3 separate regions of the Homo sapiens genome follow, and all the other regions are linked to region 3. The links come from fine-mapping of genetic effects on gene expression. A gene starts in region 3. Each other region holds a variant in brackets. All regions are shown on one strand. Distances are between the middles of the regions.

Region 1 (8,179 bases), 980 kb before region 3:
TGCCACGACGCCCAGCTAATTTTTATATTTTTAGTAGAGACAGGGTTTCACCATGTTGGTCAGGCTAGTTTCGAACTTCTGACCTCAGGTGATCTGCCCATTTTGGCCTCCCAAAGTGCTGGGATTACAGGAGTGAGCCACTGCCCCTGGCCCCATATGCTTTTTTAAATCAATGGTCTACTGTTGGTTTAAATTAAACAACATATGGCCGGGCGCAGTGGCTCACGCCTGTAATCCCAGCACTTTGGGAGGCCAAGGTGGGCAGATCATGAGGTCAGGAGATCGAGACCATCCTGGCTAACATGGTGAAACCCCGTCTCTACTAAAAATACAAAAATTAGCCGAGCATGGTGGCGGGCGCCTGTAGTCCCCGCTACTCGGGAGGCTGAGACAGGAGAATGGCATGATCCCAGGAGGTGGAGCTTTCAGTGAGCCGAGTTTGTGCCACTGCCTTCCAGCCTGGGTGACACAGCGAGACTCCATCTCAAAATAAATAAATGAATAAATAAATAATAAATAAACAACATATGACTAAGAATAAAATATGTAAAGCTATAAGTTGGCCCAAACCATTATGGCAGCTGGACCATTATGGCAGCTAGTGGTGTTCAACTGAGTCCTAAGCCAGCTGTGCAACTGAATCATGGACCCAGGATTTGATCTCCACTCATCATTCTCTGTCTCTGTTTCATCACACAGAGCATCTCAAATTGTTCCATGTAAAGGGGGATACATTTTAAAATCATTTTTAAAAAGAAGAAAGATGTGTCTTTCCATCTTTGAAATGTGAGCTTTGAGGACACCTCTCTGAACTTCTGAGAGCTTGGGAATGTAAGGTTACAGAAGTATGGATAAATTAATGTGCATTTGAACTATAAATTATTAATATCATAGCTTTTTTCCCAGAAAAGAGGCTCTTTGGTTACTGCTGCTCATTCATTCTTTGCCTGTTTTCCCCAACATCAAAGGTAAACTCACCATCAAGATAATCCACACTGGACATAACACATGGGGGAAAGGCTAAGAATTTGGGCTCTGAGCAGAGGCCGATCACAAACAACCTCCAGAAAACGGCCTGCCTCAAAGAGGAATGCAGGAAGTCCACAGAATGCCGGACAAACCAGTGAGGCAGGTTTGGAATAATCTAGTACATGCCTTTGCACCCTGTATCCGTTAAGGCATGTTTGGTTGGAAATAAATAAAAACCCAAATAACCAACGCCGTTTTCCCACAAAGAAAATCTGCAAGTATAGGTCTTTTCTGGTGCTGGTTAAGCTGCCCACTGAAGTCACGGAGGATGAGGCTCACTCTTTCCCTCTTGCTGTCCTTAGTGTGGGGCATCTTTTCTTTAGGCCATTAGGATGTAGACAAGGAACAAGCCAGCCACACACCTCCTGCTAGTCCTGAACACAACCCATCTCAATATTTCCTGCCTTAGGAAATCGACCTTTTCTTCTCTGATGAGAACTGACTCCTGTCTCTCTTCTTGAGTCTTTTTCTTGTTTATTCCTCCATTCAATAACCGTGGAGGATACACACATCGAAAATGACAGAAATCTGCTCTCAGCAATGCTGAACATTTTCCAGATATTCTTGTTACTACAAATAAAGTATGAGGCCAGGCTCATACCTATAATCCCAGCACTTTGGGAGGCCAAGGCGGGAGGGTCACTTGAGCTCAGGAGTTCAAGACCAGCCTGAGCAACGTAGCAAAACCTCATCTGTATTAAAGCAAAAAATGTAGCTGGATGTGGTGACACACTCCTGTAGTCTTAGCTACACAAGAGGCTGAAGTAGGAGGATCATGAGCTAAGGAAGTTGAAGCTGCAGTGAGCCCTGATTATGCCACTGCACTCCAGCCTGGGCGACAGAGCTTGACCTTGTCTTAATAAATCAATCAATCTGATATGAAATAGACCTGAGTGCTGTAATGATTGGGAAAGGAAACCTAAAAATGCATTTATTAACATTAACATACTTTAAAAACCCAATTGAAAACTTTAAAAATCAAGATTACAATAAGCTAGGCAGAATACAAAAGATGGACAAATCAACACCACAAAGCAATGCACAAAATCTATACCTGCAACAAGTATATTGAAATGGAGGTTCCTGTCACAATAGAATCATAAAAACAAAATGTCTGAAATTAGTTTGTTGGGAAATGTGAAGATAAGTTTTGGAAGAATTACAAGTAAACTTACATAAATGAAAATGCTTATCAAGTTCAAGGATAGATGGCCAATGAGTAAAGTGTCAGTTACCCAAATTCATCACTAGATACAATGAAAGAGCACATAGGATTATAACAGAGCCTTTTGGGAGGCTTGACCCTTGAACTTTCTTTTGTGCTTCCTCCTCCTCCAGTGTGAGAAAGAACTGATTGCTATTCTTCACATAACCAATTGGCTTCAAACTCATCTTAAGGAGAAACGCCTGCAGAAATGACTAGTTCAGGCATGTTCTTTGCTTTTGCCAATAAATTTGGACTTCAGAGCCATCAATAGCATACAGTTCTTATCACGGAGTTATTTAGGGGCCATGGCGAGGAAATCATTTTGTGGTTCAGCAAGTTGGCACAGTTTATTTTGAATGGAAGTGTGTGATTAATTCTGGGCACCTATTTTCACCCAGAGAGGACCCATGCCACACTCTATGAACAGAGAAAGAGAGACAGCATCCACATCTGCATGGATCACTTGAGTCCACCACATCCCAGAGTGTGCTTCCATGTCACACTCTTGGACTTGTGGAATATCTCCTTTCCATCGTTGCAGCCCCTTGGCTGTGCCTCTGAGGCTACCAGGCCCTTCCTTCTGACTGCAGTGGCCTCTGCTCTGCATGAGATGTCTGCCTTGCAGGAAGTGTCTCTGAGTCAGGGCAGCAGGGGCCATCCTGAGCCAGCAGAACTGGTTACCTGTGATGGCTGCTCCTAGGAGTCCCCAAACTGTGGCTTAGCATGACCAAACGAGACTTGAGAGCAAAAGCTGGTGGGGAGCAAGAAAGGGTTATCATGTAAGGTGTAGTTTTGGCAGAAGTGACAGTATGCCACCATTCATGATCTTAAATTTCACTGACTGGGCACAGTGGCTCACATCTGTAATCCCAGCACTTTGGGAGGCTGAGGTGGGTGGACTGCTTGAGGTCAGGAGTTCAAGACCAGCCTGGCTGATATGGTAAAAACCTTTCTCTACTAAAAATACAAAAATTAGCCAGGTGTGATGATGCATGCCTGTAATCCCAGCTTCTTGGGAGGCTGAGGCATAAGAATTAATTGAACCCAGGAGGCAGAGGTTGTAGTGAGCTGAGATTACACCACTGCACTCCAGCCTGGGTGAGAAAGCAAGACTGACTCAAAAAAAATGTTTGTTTGTTTGTTTTTCATTAAGTCCAGGCTGGGCACAGTGGCTCATGCCTGTAATCCCAACACTGTGAGACCAAGGTGGGAGGACTGCTTGAGCCCAGGAGTTCAAAACCAGCCTGGGGAACATACTTGCCCAGTTTTTTGTGTGAGATTCCATCCCTACGAAAACAAAACACTAGTTGCGTGTGGTGGTGTACACCTGTAATCCAGGTACTCGGGAGGCTGAGGTGGGAGGTTCGCCTGAGCCTGGGAAGTTGAGGCTGTAGTCGCACCACTACACTCCAGAGACTCTGTCTCAGCACAAATAAAACTAAAAATTACAAAATAAAAAATGTAATTAAATCCAGATGTAAGGGCTTCTACGGTTGACCCCTGGGCTCAAGTATGAGCTGTAACCAGTCACTGTCCCTCCTTTGGCTCAGCCCTCCCCAGTGTATGGCCTTGGTTCTTTCTGAGGCACACGTCTTTGCAGTCCTAAGATGGTGATTACAGTTCCAAGTCTAGCATTTAGCCGTGCAACATTTGGCTGAAGAAG[T/C]TGGCATCAGGAAGTGTATTTGCTTTCTATTGCCACTGTAGCAAATTACCAAAACTTTGTGTCTTAAAACAACAACAAATTTATTGTCTCACAGCTCTGGAGGTCAGAAGTCCAAAATGGGTCTTACTAGGCTAAAATAAAGATGTCAGCAGGACTGTGGTCCTTCTGGGGGGTCTAGGAGAGAATCCATTTCTTTGCCTTTTCCAGTTTCTAGAGACTACCTGCCTTCCTTGGCTTATGGCCCCTTCCTCCAATTTTAAAGCCAGCAGTGTAGCATTTTCAAATCTCTCATTCCATCATCACATCATCTACTCTGATTCCTGCCTCAAGTTATACAAAGACATTTGATTAAATAGGGCCCGCCCCAAGTAATTCAGAATAATCTCCCCATCTCAAGAATCTGGCCAGGCATGGTGGCTCATACCTGTAATCCCAACACTTCGGGAGGCTGAGGCAGGAAGATTGCTTGAGCCAAGGAGTTTGAGACTGGTCTGGGCAACAGAGCAAGACCGTGTCTTAACAACAACAAAAATAGCTGGGTGTGGTGGCATGCATCTGTGGTCCCAGCTACTCAGGAAGCTGAGGCAGGAGGATCGCTTGAGCCCAGGAGTTCCAGGCTACAGTGAGCCATGATCACACCACTGCACTCCAGCCTGGGTGACAGAGTGAGACCCTGTCTCTAAAACAAAAACAGATCCTTAATGGCATCTTCAATGTCCCCTTTGCCATGCGAAGGTAACATATGTATAGGTTCCAGGGTTTGGAATGAGGACATCTCTGAAGGAAAGGGGGCATTACTCTCCCTACCACAAAGAAGTAATACAACATTTTGGCCGGACGCAGTGGCTCACGCCTGTAATCCCAGCACTTTGGGAGGCTGAGGCGGGCAGATCACGAGGTCAGGCATTCGAGAACAGCCTGGTCAACACGGTGAAACCCCTTCTCTACTAAAAATACAAAAAATTAGCCGGGTGTGGTGGTGCGCGCCTGTAGTCCGAGCTACACAGGAGGCTGAGGCAGAAGAATCGCTTGAACCTGGGAGATGGAGGTTGCAGTGAGCCGAGATCGCGACACTGCACTCCAGCCTGGGCAACAGAGTGAGACTTTGTCTCAAAAAAAAAAAAAAAAAAAAAGTAATACAACATTTTCGGAAGACTTCTCTGTTGTTGACTCGCTCTGACCCTGTTAGCCAGGATTGACACATGCATCCATGTCCTGGCTGGGAGAAAAGCTGGAAAAGAGTGTAACTGGTTTTTTTGGCATCTGTAGAAGGCGCCAGACTGTGCTGCAATGAAGGTGGGTGGCACAGCCACAGTAGCTGGCACAAAAGTCTGCTTGGGTGGAGCCCATCTACCCCAGAGACCTCTCCTCACATTAAGTTATAAGGCCACAAACCAGATCCGGATGGAAGTTTCCGGACTTGCTGCCAGCAAAGATCTGGAACTGAGGGTCAACAGCTCATGCCTGCAATCCCAGCACTTTAGGAGGCTGAGGCAGGAGGATCACTTGAGGCCAGGAGTTAAAGACCAGCCTGGGCAACATAGTGAGACTCCATCTCTACCAAAAAAATTTAAAAATTAGCTGGGCATGGTGACATGTGCCTGTAATCCCAACTACTCAGGAGTCTTAGGTGCGAGGATTTCTCGAGCCCGGGAGATTAAGGCTGCAGTGAGTTATGATCAGGCCACTGCACTCCAGCCTGGGCAACAGAGTGAGACCCTGTCTCCTAAAAAAAAAAAAAAATGGAACTGAGTGAAGTCCCAACATCCAGGGAGCAGCTACCAGGACATGGGGACCCTGGTGGAGGATTGAATGGGGTGCTGGAAGGGAAAGATGGCATTTCGCTCAGGTAAGGGAGAAGTGTGAGCTCTCCCTTGGGTATAGGAGGGAAGCCAGAATTTCAAAACGTGACAGAGAGAGAGAGACAGAGAGACAGATTGTGAAATTGAGAGAAAAGTCTTTTTCACGTGAGGCTGCGCGGTGGCTCACGTCTGTAATCCCAGCACTTTTGGAGGCTGAGGTGGGCAAATCACCTGAGGTCGGGAGTTTCAGACCAGCCTGACCAACGTGGAGAAACCCCATCTCTACTAAAAATACAAAATTAGCCAGGCGTGGTGGCACATGACTGTAATCCCAGCTACTGGAGAGGCTGAGCAGGAGAATCACTTGAACCCGGGAGGCAGAGGTTGTGGTGAGCTGAGATCGCGCCATTGCACTCTAGCCTGGGCAATGCCCATCAAAAAAGAGTGAAACGCCATCTCAAAAAAAAAGAAAAAAAAAGATTCATTTGTGAGACCTTTCCACTCATCCCTTTCCTCAGATACACCCCAGAACACCCTCAGAACACCCCAGATACCCTTTTGGGCAGCTATGGGTGAAGCTGCCCCTCAATCTCAGCTCCAGTGGATGGCCCACTGGCCTCATTCTGTCTCCGTTGCTGCAGTGATTAATCCAGGGGCATGCAAGCACTCTGGTCCAAGCCAGTCAGTGCAAGGCACCCTCCTGTCCATGACAAGTGTCAAAGCAATGAACATGGACGGAGAGTGAAGCCCAGGACTTTGATTAAAAGTTAGGAGAGTGTGTTTGGCTGAAAAATGTCCCCCAAAGATGTCAGGCCTGAATTCTTGGAACCTATGAATGTTGCGTTATGTAGAGACAGGGGCTGCATATGTATTTAAAGATCTTGAGAGGGGAGATGATCCTGGATTGTGCATGTAATCACATGTATCTTTACAAGAGGGAGGCAGGGACAGATGTGACCACACATAGGCAGAAAAGGAGAAGGTGATGTGACCGTGGAGGCAGAGACTGGAGCTGTGCAGTCACAAGTCAAAACATGCCAGCAGGCCGGGCGCAGTGGCTCATGCTTGTAATCCCAGCACTTTGGGAGGCCGAGGCAGGCAGATCACCTGAAGCCAGGAGTTTGAGACCAGCCTGGCCAACATGATGAAACCCCGTCTCTACTAAAAATACAAAAGTTGGCTGGGCACAGTGGCTCATGCCTGTAATCCCAGCACTTTGGGAGGCTGAGGCGGGTGGATCACAAGGTCAGAAGTTCAAGACTAGCCTGGCCAAGATAGTGAAAACCCGTCTCTACTAAAAATACAAAAGTTAGCCAGGCATGGTGGCAGGCGCCTGTAATCCCAGCTACTCAGGAGGCTGAGGCAGGGAATTGCTTGAACCTGGGAGGCGGAGGTTGCAGTGAGCCAAAATCACACCACTGCACTCCAGCCTGGGTGACAGAGTAAGACTCCCTCTCAAAAAAATAAAAAAATAAAATAAAAATAGGCCGGGCGGGGTACCTCACGCTTGTAATCCCAACACTTTGGGAGGCCAAGGGGGGGTGGATCACGAGGTCAGGAGTTTGAGACCAGCCTGGCCAATATGATGAAACCCTGTCTCTACTAAAAATTTAAAAATTAACTGGACGTGGTGTTGCACGCCTGTAACCCCAGTTACTGGGGAGGCTGAGGCAGGAGACTGGCTTGAACTCAGGAGGCAGAGGTTGTAGTGAGCTGAGACGTGCTACTGCACTCCAGCCTGGGTGATAGAGCAAGACTCTGTCTCAAAAAATAAAAAAATAATAAAATTAAATTAAAAATAAAAATACAAAAATTACCTGGATGTGGTGACATGCGCATGTCATGCCAGCTAGTCGGGAGGCTAAGGCAGGAGAATCGCTTGAACCCGGGAGGGGGAGATTACAGTGAGCCAAGATCACACCACTGCACTCCAGCCTGGGCAACAGAGTAAGGCTCCGTCTCAAAAAAAAAAAAAAAAAAGCCAGCAGCCACCATAAGCTGGAAGAGGCAAGGAATGAATTCTCTCCTGGAGCCTCCAAGGCTTGAATTTGGCCCAGGTATGGATTTCATGCTTCCGGCCTCCAGAAATGAGAGAATCTATTTGTCTTACTTTAATATTTCTCTTATCTCTTGTTTTAAGACACTGAGTTTGTAGTAATTTGTTACAGTGGTGATAGGAAACTAATACAGAAAAAAAAAGCCCAGTCTCTTGAAAGAAGTTGAGCCATATTGGCCGGGCGTGGTGGCTCACACCTGTAATCCCAGCACTTTGGGAGGCTGAGGCGGGTGGATCACCTAAGGTCAGAAGTTCAAGACCAGCCTAGTCAACATGGTGAAACCCCCGTCTCTACTAAATATACAAAAATTAGCCGGGCGTGGTGGTGGGCGCCTGTAATCCCAGCTACTCGGGAGGCTGAGACAGGAGAATCGCTTGAACCCGGGAGGCAGAGGTTGCAGTGAGCCGAGATCGCGACATTG
Region 2 (8,168 bases), 37 kb before region 3:
AAGAAAGAGTAAGGTAAGGTAGGGAGGGGAGGAGGAGGTGAAGAAGAGGCAGAGAGAAAGGAAGGGGAGGAGAGAGTAGGGGAGGGAGAGGTGAAAGAAAGAATTGGAGGGAAGGGAGGGAGTGGGGAGAAAAGAAGAGCGTTGGGGAGGAGGAGAGGGAGGGGAGATGTCAACACATGTGTCTTCTGTGCACCCGACCCCTGGCCCAGTCCCCAGCCTTCCCTGCGTCCTTTCTCTGGCGCTGGCTCTCACACTCTTCGCCTGCAGGTTGAGCTTTGCCCAGCTGCACCACAGCTCTGGGGGAGCTCATGGGGAGAAGAGGTGAGGGCGCGGACGCCTTCCTGAACCCTCTGGATGGCTGTTCCCGTTCACAGGGTCCTGAAAGGGGTGGGGGGTCACTTTCTGGCCGGGGCGCTTCCAATCCTGCTCGTCCTGCAGCCTCACTGATGTCTCACTGCTACACAGGCTTCGGGATCCGCGGCGTCGTGAGCAGCCGTGGCTGCGCGGCCTTCTTTTATACCCGGCACCAACCGCTCAGAGAGGTACTTCCTGGCTGGCTCCTATTGGCTGAAATTCCTGACGCCATCGGAAGTGCGCCCAATAGAAAGGACAGAAACGGGAGCCTCAGTCCAGGGTTCCCGGGTTGGGGCGGAACTGGAGTGCTGCGGTCCGGGCTGGGCACTGAAAGCGAGGGCCAGGGGTGAGGCCCGAGAAGGAAGGAGACAGAGGGTGCGGAGAGGTGGTGATGGCCGTTGTGGGAATGAACAACGCATACACCCACGGGGTGTGCATGCGTCAACTAGGAGAGAGCCGCGATGCACGTGGGAATGAACAGACGCCCACTCCTGACGTGCTGGAGCCTCGTGCAGCCCGTGACCCTAAACCACTTCGCGCCTTGTGCAGCCGGCGACCCCAAAACCACCTTGCTTCAAGGTCACGTCCGATTCAGGCCACTCTCCAGGGTCACCGCGATGGGGCTCCCTGAAGCCTGCGGCTGTGCCTGCTCACAGCCAGGACGCCACCAGTCCAGCTCACTTACCCCTCTCCTCCCACTCGCCAAATATTTGTTGGACCCTGTAATCAGTTTGTGGATTTGGCCTCAGATCGTAAAATCAGCCCCCACGTATTTGTTTAGCAAACACATAAGTTTCAAAAACATTAAAAATTGAATTCTTTTAGACAGGGAACATATCTTGCAGAAATATAATTGAAGGCCTGGCGTGATGGCTCATGCCTGTAATCCCAGCACTTTGGGAGGCCGAGGCGGGCGGATCACCTGAGGTAGGCAGTTCGAGACCAGCCTGGCCAACAGGGCGAAACCCCGTTTCTACTACAAAAATTAGCCGGGTGTGGTGGCGCATGCCTGTAATCCCACCTACTCAAAAGGCTGAGGCAAGAGAATCGCTTGAACCCTGGAGGCGGAGGTTGCAGTGAGCCAAGATCATGCCACTGCACTCCAGCCTGGGCGACAGAAGGAGAACGAGACTCTGTCTCAAAAAAAACAAAAACAAAAACAAAAAAACCCAAAAACAAAAAAGCTCGTCTCAAAATATTTGGGGAGACCTATTTGAGTAATAAAACTCTGGTCTCTCATTTAGCTCGATTGATGTGAATTAAACCCTTTATTGCAATTATCCTGTCTTGATAAGTCGACTCTATCTGGGGAGCAGGGAAAATAATGAACCCATTAGGTGGTTACAATAGGTGGATCAGGGTAATGGCGCTTAGCTCAGGCCAACCATTCCTTTCTCAGAGGCTTTCCCAAACCTGTCTGTTTGTTTGTTTATTGAGACGGAGTCTTGCTCTGTCACCCAGGCTGGAGTGCAGTGGCTCGAACTCAGCTCATGCAACCTCCGCCTCCTAGGTTCAAACATTTCTCCTGCCTCAGCCTCCTGAGTAGCTGGGATTACAGGCACCTGCCACCATGCCCGGCTAATTTTTGTATTTTTAGTAGAGACAGGGTTTCACCATGTTGGCCAGGCTGGTCTCGAACTCCTGACCTCAGGTGATCCACTCGCCTCGGCTTCCCAAAATACTGGGATCACAGGTGTGAGCCACTGCGCCCAGCTCCAAACTGTCAATTTAAAACAGCCCCCACTACAACGTCATCCTGTTCTGTTTTTCCTTAGGTCACTCATAACCATGTGAAAGTGCTGTTTTATATATGTGTATATTGTTAATTTAATGAGTATCGATTGAGTGCCTATCTTGCAACAGGCACTGCTCTAAAAAATCAGATATGTACATAGCAAAATAATTATGCATTCCTGTACTTGAGGAATTTTTTTTTTTTTTTGAGATGCAGTTTCACTCTGTCGCCCAGGCTGGAGTGCAGTGGTGCGATCTCGGCTCACTGCAACCTCTGCCTCCCAGGTTCAACCAATTCTCCTGCCTCAGACTCCCAAGTAGCTGGGACTACAGGTGCACACCACCACGCCCGGCTAATTTTGGTATTTTTAGTAGAGACAGGGTTTCACCATTTTGGCCAGGCTGGTGTCGAACTCCTGACCACAGATGATCTACCCACCTCAGTCTCCCAAATTGCTGGGATTACAGGCGTGAGCCACTGTCCCTGGCCCTCGGGGACCTTTTAATTCCAACAATCAGTAACTCAAAAAGAACAACCACAACCACAAAAGTAAACAATATAGAAGGTTAGAGGGAGGTAGAGTAGTTGGGAAATGTCTAAAAGACAGTTATATCTGAGCATGGACTTGGAGGAATGGAGCATCTGAGGTAACAGGGTCTCATAGAGAGAGCACCTAAGACAAGGGAATGAAAGCAGGAGGATCCTGTCGTGTTTGGGGAAGTGCAACAAGGTTAGTATGGCTGCAGCTGAAGATAAACTGAATCACAGAGATAGATGGACGTGAATTCTGTAGTGTCCTGGAGGCCACAGTAAGGAGGTCATATTTTTATTTTTAGTTTTGAGACAAAGTCTCACTCTTCCACCCAGGCTGGAGTGCAGTGACACCATCATGGCCCACTACAGCCTCGAACTCCCAGGCTTAAGCAATTCTTCCACCTAAGCCTGCCAAGTAGCTGGGACCACAGGTGCATGCCACCACATCCAGCCAATTTTTAAAAATTTATTCTTTTTAAAGATGGGGTCTCACTATATTTCCCAGGCTGGTCTTGAACTCCTGGGCTCAAGCAGTCCTGCCTCAGCCTCCCAAAGTGCTGGGATTACAGGCGCGAGCCACTGCGCCTGGCCCAAGGATGTTGTAATAGGCTCCCTGTGTATTCTAGAATATACCTGGGATTGTATTTAGTCAGGCAGGGTGTGACAATCAGATACAGAAGTGATTATTATGGAGGAAGTTTATAGTAAGAGATCCCTAGAAACAGGAGGCAGAGCACACCATGCGGGTGGAAGCACCAGAGCAGGTTAGAAAGCAGCAGCAGAGGAGAAAGCAAGGCCCAGAGCCTGCGCTGTGTTTTCCACCAGAAAGGCAAGGCAAGGCAGGGCAGGGGCAGCATAAACAGAATAGGATTTGCTACTGTGAATAATGTTGGCAGGTTTTAGGACACAGGCACTGTCCGCAGCTATCTGATATCTGACCCTAGAATGAATTAGGGCCAACTTCAGGAAAACAACCTCTTGGGGTATCTTGCCTGGTAAGATTTTTATGTCGAAAACCATAAGTAGGTCCTGCTGCACGTTTGACCAGATAATTTA[T/C]GCTAACAATATGATTCATGGTGGATGCTGGCTTTTGCATGCATGAGGCCCTGGGCCATGCTATATGTTTGTTTTCTGCAAGGGTTGTAGACTGGATATTTATGGTTATTCATGTGGGTTCTGCATTCCTACCTCAATGACCCTTAACGAAAACTCTAGACGTCAAGGCTTGGGGGAGCTTCCCTGGCTGGCAATACTGTGAATGTGTTGCACACAACTTTGCTGGGAGAATTCAGTGTGCCCTTGTGCAACTGCACTGGGAGGGAACACCTGCTAAGTTTGTGCCTGTGCTGGACACAGTGGCTTCCACCCGTAATCCCAGCACTTTGGGAGGCCAAGGCGGGTGGATCACTTGAAGTCAGGAGTTCCAGACTGGCCTGGCCAACATGGTGTAACCCCATCTCTGCTAAAAACACAAAAATCAGCCAGTGTGGTGGCACATGCCTGTAATCCCAGCTACTTGGGAGGCTGAGGCAGAGGATCACCTGAACCTGGGAGGCAGAGGTTGCAGTGAGCCGAGATTGTGCCATTGCACTCCAGCCTGGGTGACACAGCGAGACTCCATCTCAAAAAAAAAAAAAAAAAAAAAGAAAAAGAAAAAAGAAAAAAAATTGTGCCTGGTTTCTCACAGATTTCCTCCTATGTGCCTTTTACCTTTGGTGATCTTGGTCTCTATCCTTTTGTGGTAATAAACTGTAACCATGAGTACAACAGCTTTTCTGAGTTGTGTGTGACTTTCTTTTCTGAATTTTGACTTTCAGGCAAATCATCGAGCCTGAGGTGGTACTGGGGAGAGAATGTCACATAACCTAAAATGTCAAAAATGATTAAGGCTCATTCACCTAACAAATATCTGAATACATACTATTGACTACAAACTATGCACATGGAACATTAGGAGAAAATCTAGATCAAGGTCTGTGCTTTTTCGAAGCTGGAAATTGAGTTCAGGATACGGTCATTATTCAATAACCAAACAAATCAATAGATAATCATGAAAGAATGGGTATGAGCTAGCTGGGTGCTCTAGTGGGCTTCTGTGAAGGTGTGCTCTCTGGGACAAAATGAAGGATACACATTTGCTAACTGGGCAAAGCAGGTGGTGGAAGCTCCATCTCGAGTGGGAAAAGGAAAGGGAAGCATGGAGTGAAAGGAGAGCAGTAAGACTTGTATGAGATGAGGGTTGGGGAAATACGTTTTAGGGTATGTTCACTAAAGTAGGTAGCTGAACCCAAGAGTGCAGATGAGGCCTGGGGAGAGACCAGTAAGAGAAAAAAGAGGCCTGGGACAAAGCCTTAGAAATTTCAACACCGGTCAGGCACGGTGGCTCATGCCTGTAAGCCCAGCCCTTTAGGAGGCCAAGGCAGGCGGATCACCTGAGGTCAGGAGTTAAAGACCAGCCTGGCCAACATGGTGAAACCCCGTCTCTACAAAAATACAAAAATTAGCCGGGCATAATGGCAGATGCCTGTAATGCCAGCTACTCAGGGGGCAGAGGCGGGAGAATCACTTGAACCTGGGAGGCGGAGGATGCAGTGAGCCGAGATCATGCCATTGCACTTCAGCCCGGAGACAGAGCAAGACTCTGTCTCAAAGAGAAAAAAAAAAGAAAAAAAATTCAACACCAAATGGCTGGATACACGTGGATGCACCAACATGAAAGGGGAAAAGGAGTGAGAGGGTGCAGGGGAGAAAACCAGAAGCATAACCTTACAGAATCCAAGAGTACATCTGGAGAAAGGACTGGACAACAACAGTTTCAAGTCCTGTCCATAGCCCAGAAAAGACAAGGACTTAGGATTCATAAACAGGGAGCCACTGCTGACCTTCACCAGAGTGGTAAAAAGCGTGGTGCTGTAGCCGGGGAGTTTACAAGGAGAGGGGAGTTGCGGGACGTGGAGAGAAATAACACAAGGAAGAGGTAATGGGAGCGTGACATGAGCCCCAAGAGGCTCCTCCATTAGAGGAAGAGAGTGAGGAAAAGACAAAGAACTCAAAGCTGGAGAAGCCCATACAGACATAGGGACATATGGAAGATCAGACTGGTGATGTCTGATACTCAAGAAGTGTGAGGATAATTCAGAAAGGGTTTGAAAATGACAAAAGAACATGCAGATGAAGACCAGGCACGGTGGCTCATGCCTGTAACCCCAGCACTTTGGGGGCCAGGGGAGGAGGACTGCTTGAGCCCAGGAGTTTGAAACCAGCCTGGGCAACACAGGGAGACCCCCATCTCTACAAAAAATTTAAAAATTAGCTGGGCATAGTGATGTGCACCTGTAGTCTCAGATACTTGGGAGGCTGAGCCTGCAGTGAGCCATGATCAGAAGACCCTATTTTTTTTTTGTTTTTTGTTTTTTGAGATGGAGTTTCACTCTTGTTGCCCAGGCTGGAGTGCAATGGCGCAATCTTGGTTCACCGCAGCCTCTACCTCCCGGGTTCAAGCATTTCTCCTGCCTCAGCCTCCCGAGTAGCTGGGATTACAGGCATGCACCACCACACTCAGCTAATTTTTTGTATTTTTAGTAGAGACGGGGTTTCTCCATGTTGGCAAGGCTGGTCTCAAACTCCTAATCTCAAGTGATCCACCTGCCTCGACCTCCCAAAGTGCTGGGATTACAGGTGTGAGCCACCGCGCCCAGCCTAAGATCCTATGTCAAACACACACACACACACACACACACACACAGCAAAAGAACATGCAGATGGAAAATAGGCTTGTAGGTGGCTGAAATGACATGTATGCCAAAAGTCAAGAAACTGAGATGAAAAAAGATTACTGTCACTGCTGAAGCCTAATTTCAAAGATCAAGAGACACACTTTGAACATATGTGAGTTCTTATACCTGAGAGCCAGGACATGGAACTAGGAAGAACAAGAGTACAGAGATGTTGAAAGACCACACAGCTACAAATGGCTAAAGGCTTAAGAAAGGAGGGAGGATGCCCATGAAAGGGAGGATAATCAAGAAAACACCATGTGGTCGGGCCGGGAGATGGCATTCTTCCTTCAAACTTGCAAACATTAAGAAGTGGCCCGGGGAGAATGATATCGGAAGGTGTTGTGTATTTGGGGCCCTCAATTAGTTGTGCTTGAGCTTTCTTGAGTGTCGGGCTATGAGAAGGGCATCAGGAGCTACCTTCCTAAAAACCCCAACCCCTCAGATGGTTGAGATTTTGCTAACACAATGGTCCCTCAAACGCCTGGGTCCTACCAATGCATCTGGAGAGCCCCTCTTTGGCATTGACCCCCTCCTCCTTCCATGGCTGTCCACTGAGTTCCAACCTAAGTATCACATTTGGCTTGGTGCACTGACACAGTTCTTTGGAAATGACATGGAAATGGCTGATTTGCTTTGCTAAATTCTTGAAATTCATGAGTGCTTTCAGGTAGGTTTTTTAAAATGTAGATTTTATTATTTAGCGTTGACGATGCCAACAGATCAGAAGACTGCCACTGATGAGTGTGTAACTCATAGTTCCCATGAAGAGGGGGTATATGAAGCCACACAGGGCTAAACAGGGAAGACTCACGGTTGGTTAGGAGACAGGAGGAAGGGGAAAGTGTGGGTAAAGCCTGTGTTATCATTTCTTCATTTTATTTTTAAAGAGCCAGGGTCTTGCTCTGTTGTCCAGGCTGAGGTGCAGTGGCTCAGTCACAGCTTACTGCAGCCTCAAACTCCCAGGCTCAAGTAACACTCCTATCTTAGCCTCCAAGTAGCTGCAACTAGAGGTGTGCACTATTGTGCCCCGTGAATTTTTTTTTTTTTTTTTTTTTTGTAGAGATGGGGTCTGGCTATGTTGCTCAAGCTGGTCTCAAACTCCTGGCCTCAAGTGAGCCTCCTGCCTTGGGCGCCCAGTGTTGGATTACAGGTGTGAGCTACCACACCCGGGCTGTATTGCCATTTTCGAGTGAAGAAATGGGTAAGGCAGAATAAACAAGTTATGAATTGGCTTAGCAATTCATAACTTAGCAAAAGCGGAGGAGACTTTTGCTACCTCTAAGAGGAGCAGTGTCTCCAGGATCAGCAAGGTCTCATTTGTCAAAATATCAGAATAAAAACACATGCTGAGCCAGGCAAAGTAGCTCATGCCTGTAATCCCAGCACTTTGGGAGGCTGAGGCAGGAGGACCACTTGATCTCAGGAGTTCGACACCAGACTGGGTTTCGAACACAGATATCTCATCTCTAGATTTAAAAAAAAAAAAAAAGAATCAGCTGGGCATGGTGGCAAGCACCTGTAATCCCAGCTACTCAGGAAGTTGAGGCGGGAGGATCACCTGAGCCCGAGAGATTGAGGCTGCAGTGAGCTATGAATGTGCCACTGCACTCCAGCCTGGGTGACAAAATTTCATTAAAGTCACCTGGCCAGTCAACACAAGGCCCATGGCTCGTAACCCTTACTCAAGAGGGTATTTCTCCTCCGCTATCTTGCCTGTCACATGCAAACCAGCCATTCCACAGCCCTACCCCTCAACTGTCTTTGGC
Region 3 (8,162 bases):
ATTGAAGGATGCAACGTATTGATCCTGGGTGTGTCTGTAAAGGTGCTGCCAAAAGAGATCAACATTTGAGTCAGTGGGCTGGGAAAGGCAGACCCCCCCCTTAATCTGGGTGGGCACCATCTAATCAGCTGCCAGCGAGGCCAGCATATAAAGTAGGCAGAAATACATGAAAAGACTAGACTGGCCTAGACTACCAGCCTACATCTTTCTCCCATGCTGGATGCTTCCTGCCCTCGAACATTGGACACCAAGTTCTTCAGCTTTGGGACTTGGACTGGCTTCCTTGCTCCTCAGCTTGCAGACAGCCTACTGTGGGACCTTGTAATCATGAGTTATTACTACTTAATAAACTGTCCTTTTTATATATATCTATTCTATTAGTTCTGTCCCTTTAGAGAACCCTAATCCAGGTGGCCACTCTTGTCTTGAACTCACTAAGGCAGAAAAAGCCATAGAGAATAGACGTGACATGAGCAGACCCAGACAGAGAAGCCAGGACACCATCGTGGTGGTTCTCAGTTCCTACACCAGCCCCTCATGAGGCACAGCTGAAAATTACCTTTGAGTTTGCAAAACACCCCATTTCCTTTTACCACCTTCTCCTTTGGCTGGGAGCCAAAGAGTACCCTGTCTTTAGCCCAGAGATATAGGAGACCAGATAGGAAGAGGTTACTGTGGAAAATGACTAAAGCTGTGGGAAAGAGGCAAGGTAGATTCTAGAGGCCTTCTTGTGCAGCCAGGCCTGGAGTCAGAAGATGGAATGAAGGAAGTGGCAGGTCACCTGCATGGTGGAGGGGGAAGGAAGGCCTTACCCAGAGACACCAGGAGCCCACAGTTTTCCAGCATCACCTCCTGGTACAGGGTCCGCTGAGCTAGGTCCAGCTGCCCCCACTCCTCCTTGGTGAAAGTCACAGCCACATCATCAAAGGTCACAGACACCTGGAAAGTCAAACAGAATTAGTAGTATTGGCCTTTCAGCTGCTGAATGAGATCACAGACTGTGCTCCACTGGAAAAGGTGTACAGTGATGGCGGCCTGAATCACAGAGCACCTCCTGAGGGCCTAGCTCTGTGCTGGGCTCAAGAGGGAAGATAGATGCTTTTAACATAATACCAGAGTAAAGGAGAGAAGCCTCCTATTTAACGGCCGTTAGAGAATGACACAGGACAACGGAAACAACTTGTGGACTGTGAAATACAGAAGCTAAGGGCTCTAAAACGACAGGGAAATGGGGAAATGGTAATAATAGCAATAATGGTTACAACGGCAGTACCTGAGTCTCACTGGTCCAGCTAGGTGCCTGCCCCATGTTGAAGGCTTCACATCCTGTGTAAACACAGTGACTAGAAGTTCCTAGCTCCAAACACTTGAAACTGACACTTGACAGCTCTTACCTCAAAGACAGCATTTCATTTCTCTGAGCCTTGATTTCTGGATCAATACAATAACACTTCCCACCAGTAACAGTTGTTAAATTTAAAGTATTCAATGCTCAGTGTGCTCTGGGATTTTTATTAATCCTTTCACAGTCCCTGCAGTCAACACCATCATCACCTTCACAGTCAATGACTTCATGCTAAGGAAGCGCTATCAATTCACCCAGTCACACATCTCACCACCATAGATAGGATCTAAACATGGGGTTACTATGATTCACGGTCTAACAGTGTAACTCCAACACTCCCCCAACATCAAAGCAAATCTAATGCGATGAAGTTATAAGCATTTCCACTCATTTCTAACATTAAGTCTATTTCAATTAGCCCTGAAAAACGTATCTGTGGGCCGGGCATGGTGGCTCATGCATGTAATCCCAGCACTTTGGGAGGTCGAGGTGGGCGGATCGCTTGAGGCCAGGAGTTGAAGACCAGCCTGGCAAATATGGTGAAACCCAGTCTCTACTAAAATACAAAAATCAGTCAGGTGTGGTAGTGCATGCCTGTAATCCCAACTACTCGGCAGGCTGGGGCAGGAGAATTGCTTGAACCTGGGAGGCAGAGACTGCAGTGAGCTGAGAGTGCACCACTGTACTCCAGCCTGGGCGACAGAGTGAGACCCTGTCTCAAAACAAAAAAAAGTATGTGAACACGGGCACAAAAAGCTCAGCATTCCTCACTGACCCCACAGAGCGGCACTGGAAGGGCTGCATCTACTTGGGGAACGACAGGCTCCAGACCAGCTTCCCATGCCCTCTGGGATCTCCCTGGGTCTCCCAGATCCCCCAAGGAAATTCCACAATGAACCAACCATCGGCCTCTTTCCTTACTGGGTTCCGACAGAACTTGTCTCTGACGCCAGGATACTTTGGGGCCACGGAACACGAGCGGCCAAGGATAATGCAGGCTGTAGCGATGAGAGTAAGGGCATCTGACTGGCCACAATGTCTGCAGTAGTTGCGGATGGCTAGAACATCCAGGAAAAGACCACACACTGTTGCCCTCCACGTCTCAGCGGCCGCAGGAAAACCATGGCAACCTTACACACCCTCCTGAGCCTCCTTAAACATACAACATACCTTGTCTCTGCTCGCGCATTTGTCGGCTTGCTACTGCCCTGCCCTCCCCTTCCCCCCTCAGGCCCCCAATTCATGCTGGAATGAGACCTGGTCCACCAGAGAATGCTTGCAGGCCAAGGATGATGGGAGTCCCCAGAGGAAGCATCATTCACTCAACAACCTACGGAGCTCCTTCCAGTAGGCCCAACACTCCTTACGGCCAGGTATAAATTAAGTGGCAAACCAGCTCCACACACCAAAGCGAACGACGACTGCGAAGACAAATCCAGGGGATACCTGGGCTCCCACCCACTTCGGAAACCGCCTCAGCGCTGGCAAGGAAGCGGCAACCGCGAAGCCACCGTCCACTCACCTGGGCCCGGTCCGTCAGCACCGCTGCCGCCATCACGTCACCCCCTGGGCCGCAGAGCTGGGACAGAGGAGCCCCGGGCGGCCTGACGGACCCCACCTGTGCCCGACCCTGGCCGGTTGCCCGGGGCTTCCAGGCGCGCTCGGGGCCGCCGCCTCCTCGGTGGCAACGGCGTTCCAGACGCAGGGCCGCCGCCTCCTCGGTGGCAACCGCGTTCCAGACCCAGGGCGCCGCCCCTGGAGACCGCGGGGCTGAAGGGCGGGGGAGGAGAGACCGCAGCTTGACGGCGACCCAGGAACAAACCCACGGAAGGGGTCAGGCTCGTACAAAGGTGCGGCGGGGATTCCTATCCTACTCCCCTGCTCGGTCCTGACTAGGGACCTGCAAAGCGGCCCCGACCGGGGCCCTCAGTGGCTACAGACCTCTCCAGACAGAAGTGCAGAAGAAAATGGCGTCCGCAGCGAGCAACCCGGAAGTCCCGCCCCCACCGGCGTGAGCCGTCGGAAACGTCCCCGTCCTAGGCCGTCGTTGGCCCAGCTCCCGCCGTACGCATAATGCACAGCCTTCTAAGTAGTGTAGTTTTCCTCATGTGTTCAACAACGGGAGGAACGCTTCACGGCGCAAGTTTTCCTCCCAGGGAAAGGCACTCCAGGACCCGAGGAGACGCTCCAGACCCACCTCTTTACGGTGGGCACAACTCGAGGGGAAGGATGGAGGGAGGGAACCGAGGGGCAAGGGTTACATTGCATTCTTCTCTCGGGAAAATCGGAGCTCGGGAGACAGGGACTTTCCTTCAGGTCAGGGCACAGGCAAAGGCGCAGAACTGGGTCCTCAGCTCGCCTGGCGACTGACCCCCTTTCACATCCCTCCTCCCCGGATCATCATCTTGGAAGACACAAAAAAGCCGAATGATCATCTGGAAGCCCTGCCCCGACACGTTGTGTGCGCAAACTGCCCTCTTTTGAGCCTTCTTTGGACCAGCACAGCCTCTACGTGATGCAGGGAGTCATGTATTTGGCCCAGACCACACAAAAAGTGGATTTGCCCACTTCTGAGGTGGGGAGGCTGCAAGTGGAGGAGGTTCGGAGGCTCAGGATGGTTAGTTTGAAATGTCTACAGAACCACAAAGTATCTCTGTCACAGGCAATTCGACTTACGACTGAATGTTGGAAGAAGGTTTGAGCATGAATATATGAATTTAGGAGTTACCTTACACTGTTATTTCAAGTCATGATATTGAGTGAGACCATCAAGGCAATGCATGTAGATGGAGAAGAAAATACACAGAGCATGAGCCGGGGACCAAGTCTACATCATTAAATGGTTGATGACAATATTACCAGAAAGGCCAGGTCCTTGCATCTAGATCCTGCTGCTTGCTGCACAGAAGGCCAGTCAGCAAGACAATGAGTATTGTCAGGGATGAAGGCTTTATTCGGTGCTGCAGCTGAGGAAAATGGGAGATCAATCTCAAATCTCTTTCCTCAACTGACTAAAACTAGGGGTTTATACATCAGGGAAGAAGTGTAACTATGTTTGAGAAAACAGGAATTAGGAAGGGGTAAGGAAGAGGAATGGGTCAACAGGCAGCAGATGGTCAGTTAGGCAATCATCATGGGTAAGGGGTATAGCATCTCGTTTTTCCAGATGTGGTAATCCAGTAAGTTTCAGTTTCTTTATACTATCTGGGAGGCCTGATGCTTGGTTTCCTGAGAAAGGAAATCAGATAAGACAAATAAAAGTGTCTCGAGTTTTAGGAAGGGGAGGCTCAATGTCTATAATGTGTTGATTCAAAAGAAACCATAAATATCAGTTCTATGGGACACTGGAGCTGGTTTCAGTTCCCTGTTTCTATTTATCAATTCCTCAATCATGGGGAATCTGGACGTGATCTTTCTGGCTGCTTTATGCTGAGGAGGGGTATTGTGGGTGGCTGCATACCATAGATGACCACGTGGCCACTCAGATTAACTCAAAGGTTAATCTAACGCTATAGTTTTCTTTCTTTCTTTCTTTTTTTTTTTTGAGACAGAGTTTTGTTCTTTCACCTAGGCTGGAGTGCAGTGGCACGATCTCCGCTCACTGCAACCTCTGCCTCCTAGGTTCAAGCGATCCTCCTGCCTCAGCTTCCCGAGTAGCTGGGATTACAGGTGCCCACCACCATGCCTGGCTAATTTTTGTATTTTTAGTAGAGACGGGGTTTCACCATGTTGGCCAGGCTGGTCTCAAACTCCTGACCTCATGATCCGCCCACCTCAGCCTCCCAAAGTTGAGCCACTGCACCTGGCAGCACTATAGTTTTCTTTGGAAACAGTTTTTCTCTCTCTAGTCCCTGACTTCCATCAAAAGCAAATCACAGCAGGAACAACTTACCTGCAAAACAAGCTTCAGTCCCACCATACTTATCCAAACTACAGCAAGAATCACTGTTTATACAATTCCTCCTAAATTGGCTTTGCTGGAACCCCTCATAAGGAATCTCTCAGACTCAACACCCAAAGACCTCTTAAGCCCAGCCAAAGATCTGTCTGCACCTGTACATACCTGCATGAATTGGGTGAAACCCGTTTTTCTTGAGGCCCCAGAACATCTTGAGGTTCCTAGGCCTATCAGAAAATGACACTGTATTTACTACAGGCCAGGAACCCCACAAAGGAACTGTGTGCACAAGATATGAGGCCAGTCCTTCCAAGGGCTCCCATCAGCTCCATAAAGTCAGTCTTTTTTTTTTTTTTTTTTTTTTTTTTTGAGACACAGTCTTGCTCTGCCGCCCAGGCTGGAGTGCAGTGGCGTGATGTCAGCTCACTGCAAGCTCTGCCTTCTGGGTTCGCGCCATTCTCCTGCCTCAGCCTCCTGAGTAGCTGGGACTACAGGCGCCTGCCACCACACCCGGCTAATTTTTTATATTTTTAGTAGAGATGGGGTTTCACCATGTTAGCCAGGATGGTCTCGATCTCCTGACCTCGTGATCCACCCGCCTTGGCCTCCCAAAGTGCTGGGATTACAGTCATGATCCACCACGCCTGGCCCATAAAGTCAGTCTTAATTCCTCAAAGCAGTCTCGCATAGTTAAAAATATGCCATTCCTGTCAAAGCCTTGGGAAAAGACCCAGTGCCTACAATTGTGTTATAAAATAATATGGATTTTAAAAAATAGAGATAGGGTCTTGCTTGTTTACCCAGACTGGAGTGTAGTGGCACGATCATAGCTCACTACAGCCTCAAACTCCTGGGCTCAAGCGATCCTCCTGCCTCAGCCTCCCAAGTAGCTAGAAAACAGATTCTTATTGAACATATGCTACACCTAGCTAGAAAACAGATTCTTATTGAACATATGCAAACAACCACATTGCCGTGAATTAAGAATATTCACAAATAGTTTCTGAATTCTGGAGAAATCAGGCAGAGAGAGAAATAGCCCTCAAATTTTGTTTACAAATGTATATTCAATTGTTAAAGGCTATAAATAGCTGGAAAGAAAAAAGTTTCATAGAGACAGAAAGTAGATTTACAAAAAAAGTTCTCCTGACTCAAAAACAAAACAAAAAGAATCAGCAATGTTTCAAACACACACAAAAAATAATAAAATAAATTCAGTACTTGAAATAAATCTCTGTGTTTGTGTGTGTGTGTTCCATTTCTCCCTAATTCCATTTCTCAACTGCATGAATCCTTAACTCATGAAAGATACTTTTTACCCTCTTGGCTCCACAGTTAATGGAGAAAAAAAAATCATCAACAGTGACTTCTAAGATGGCTTAATATACTATATAATAAAATATTTTTATTTATCATGAAATAAATTAGTACAGTCCATGAAACTCCTGCTCTGCTTCATATTGCATAAACATATGTATACATAATTATGTATTTTATGAATATATCAGCCTTCTAATTAGAGTCCTGGAAGTTTTCTCTCTAGGCTGATAGGACAATCTCCAAAGTTACCAGAAACTTGAATTCAAGTGTTCTTTTTATGAACTCTCTCAAAGAAGCCCTGAACTGTAGCTGACTGTAAGCCACCTTTGGAGAAGACTCAAAGTCAAACAATAATTGTGGATGACAAAAGTCTTAGGACAACCATAGTTAAAAAACAATGGACAAGGAAATTTGGTTATTTCTGTGACAAACGATTATGACAAATGTACTTTTCTCAAGTTTTAAGAGTGGGAGGGTCAATTTCTAGGTTCAGTCAAAAGAAACCACAAACATCAGTTCTATGGGACAACTGGGTTGGTTTTCACAAGAAACTGACAAGCTCACATTAGGAGTTCTAACTGTCCTCCCAGAAAGGTATATTAAGCAATCTTAGAAGTCACTATTGATGATTTTTATTTTCCATTAACTGTAGAGTCAAGAGGATAAAAAGTATCTTTCATGAGTTAAGGATTCATGCAGCTGAGAAATGGTATTAGGGAGAAATGGAATACACACGCGCGCACACGCGCACACACACACACATATTTTACTGCAAGAAATGGGGGTGGTGTGCGGTGGCTCATGCCTGTAATCCCAGCACTTTGGGAGGCTGAGGAAGGAGGATTGCTTGAGTGTAGGAGATCGGTCAGAGTGGTGGGAGAAGCTATAAGAAAAGGACGCAAACCTTCTGAAAGGTCAGAAGTCTCTGCATAGCTTCACGGGAGAATAAGCTGAAAGCAGCTGTTCTCTTACCCTAAGGCAGAGGGCAAGGAGTAGGTACAAGGAAGTGTAGGGGAATTTAACATAAACAGGCTTGTTTACTTATGTTAACTAGGAACCAACATTTGATCATTCACGAGTGAGGCTGCCCCCAAAAGGGGGAACAATAATGTTAATTACCCACAGACTGTGTTGGCTCCAGGCTTTTGGCATTATGTCTGTACTGAATAAAAGCAAGCAGTCCCAGCTTATCAAGACTGCTCACTCTTCAGCAGTCCCCTAGCTGCTCTTACACTACATACCTGTGTCTGAGTACTCCTTTCATCCATCGCTCAGCCAGGGTCTACAGGACAGACCCGGCTCTTGAGGCCGGGAGTTAAGAGACTAGCCTGTGCAGCATAGTGAGACCATTCCTCCACAATAATTTTTTTTTTTGAGACAGAGTCTCGGCACTGTCACCCGGGCTGGTGTGTAGTGTTGCAATCTTGGCTCACTGCAACCTCCATCTCCTGGGTTCAAGCAATTCTCCTGCCTCAGCCTCCTGAGTAGGTAGGATTACAGGTGCCCGCCACTGTGCCTGGCTAATTTTTTATATCTTTTAGTAGAGATGGGGTTTCACTGTGTTGGCCAGGCTGGTCTTGAACTCCTGACCTCATAATC

What was found.
Region 1: its variant is fine-mapped to the expression of ZNF264 in whole blood (INTERVAL, PIP 0.98).
Region 2: its variant is fine-mapped to the expression of ZNF264 in whole blood (TOPMed, PIP above 0.99).

What each region holds. Positions count from the first base shown.
Region 1 is chr19:58,171,345-58,179,523 of GRCh38, reverse strand. LOC124904784 (a long non-coding RNA gene) reads right to left here. Exons shown (of 2, transcript XR_007067360.1): 2 at 1,935-2,987. Among named protein-coding and RNA genes, the nearest start is that of ZNF274, 7.6 kb to the left of the region's middle. The variant T/C (reference allele first, on the strand shown) is at 3,900.
Region 2 is chr19:57,223,391-57,231,558 of GRCh38, reverse strand. AURKC (aurora kinase C) reads right to left here and starts at 536. Exons shown (of 7, transcript NM_001015878.2): 1 at 253-536. The coding sequence starts at 310. The variant T/C (reference allele first, on the strand shown) is at 3,680.
Region 3 is chr19:57,186,652-57,194,813 of GRCh38, reverse strand. It overlaps ZNF264 (zinc finger protein 264), which reads right to left and starts at 3,314. Exons shown (of 4, transcript NM_003417.5): 1 at 2,868-3,314; 2 at 813-939. The coding sequence starts at 2,900. RefSeq lists a silencer at 2,799-3,068 and enhancers at 3,239-3,298, 3,309-3,398, 3,419-3,478.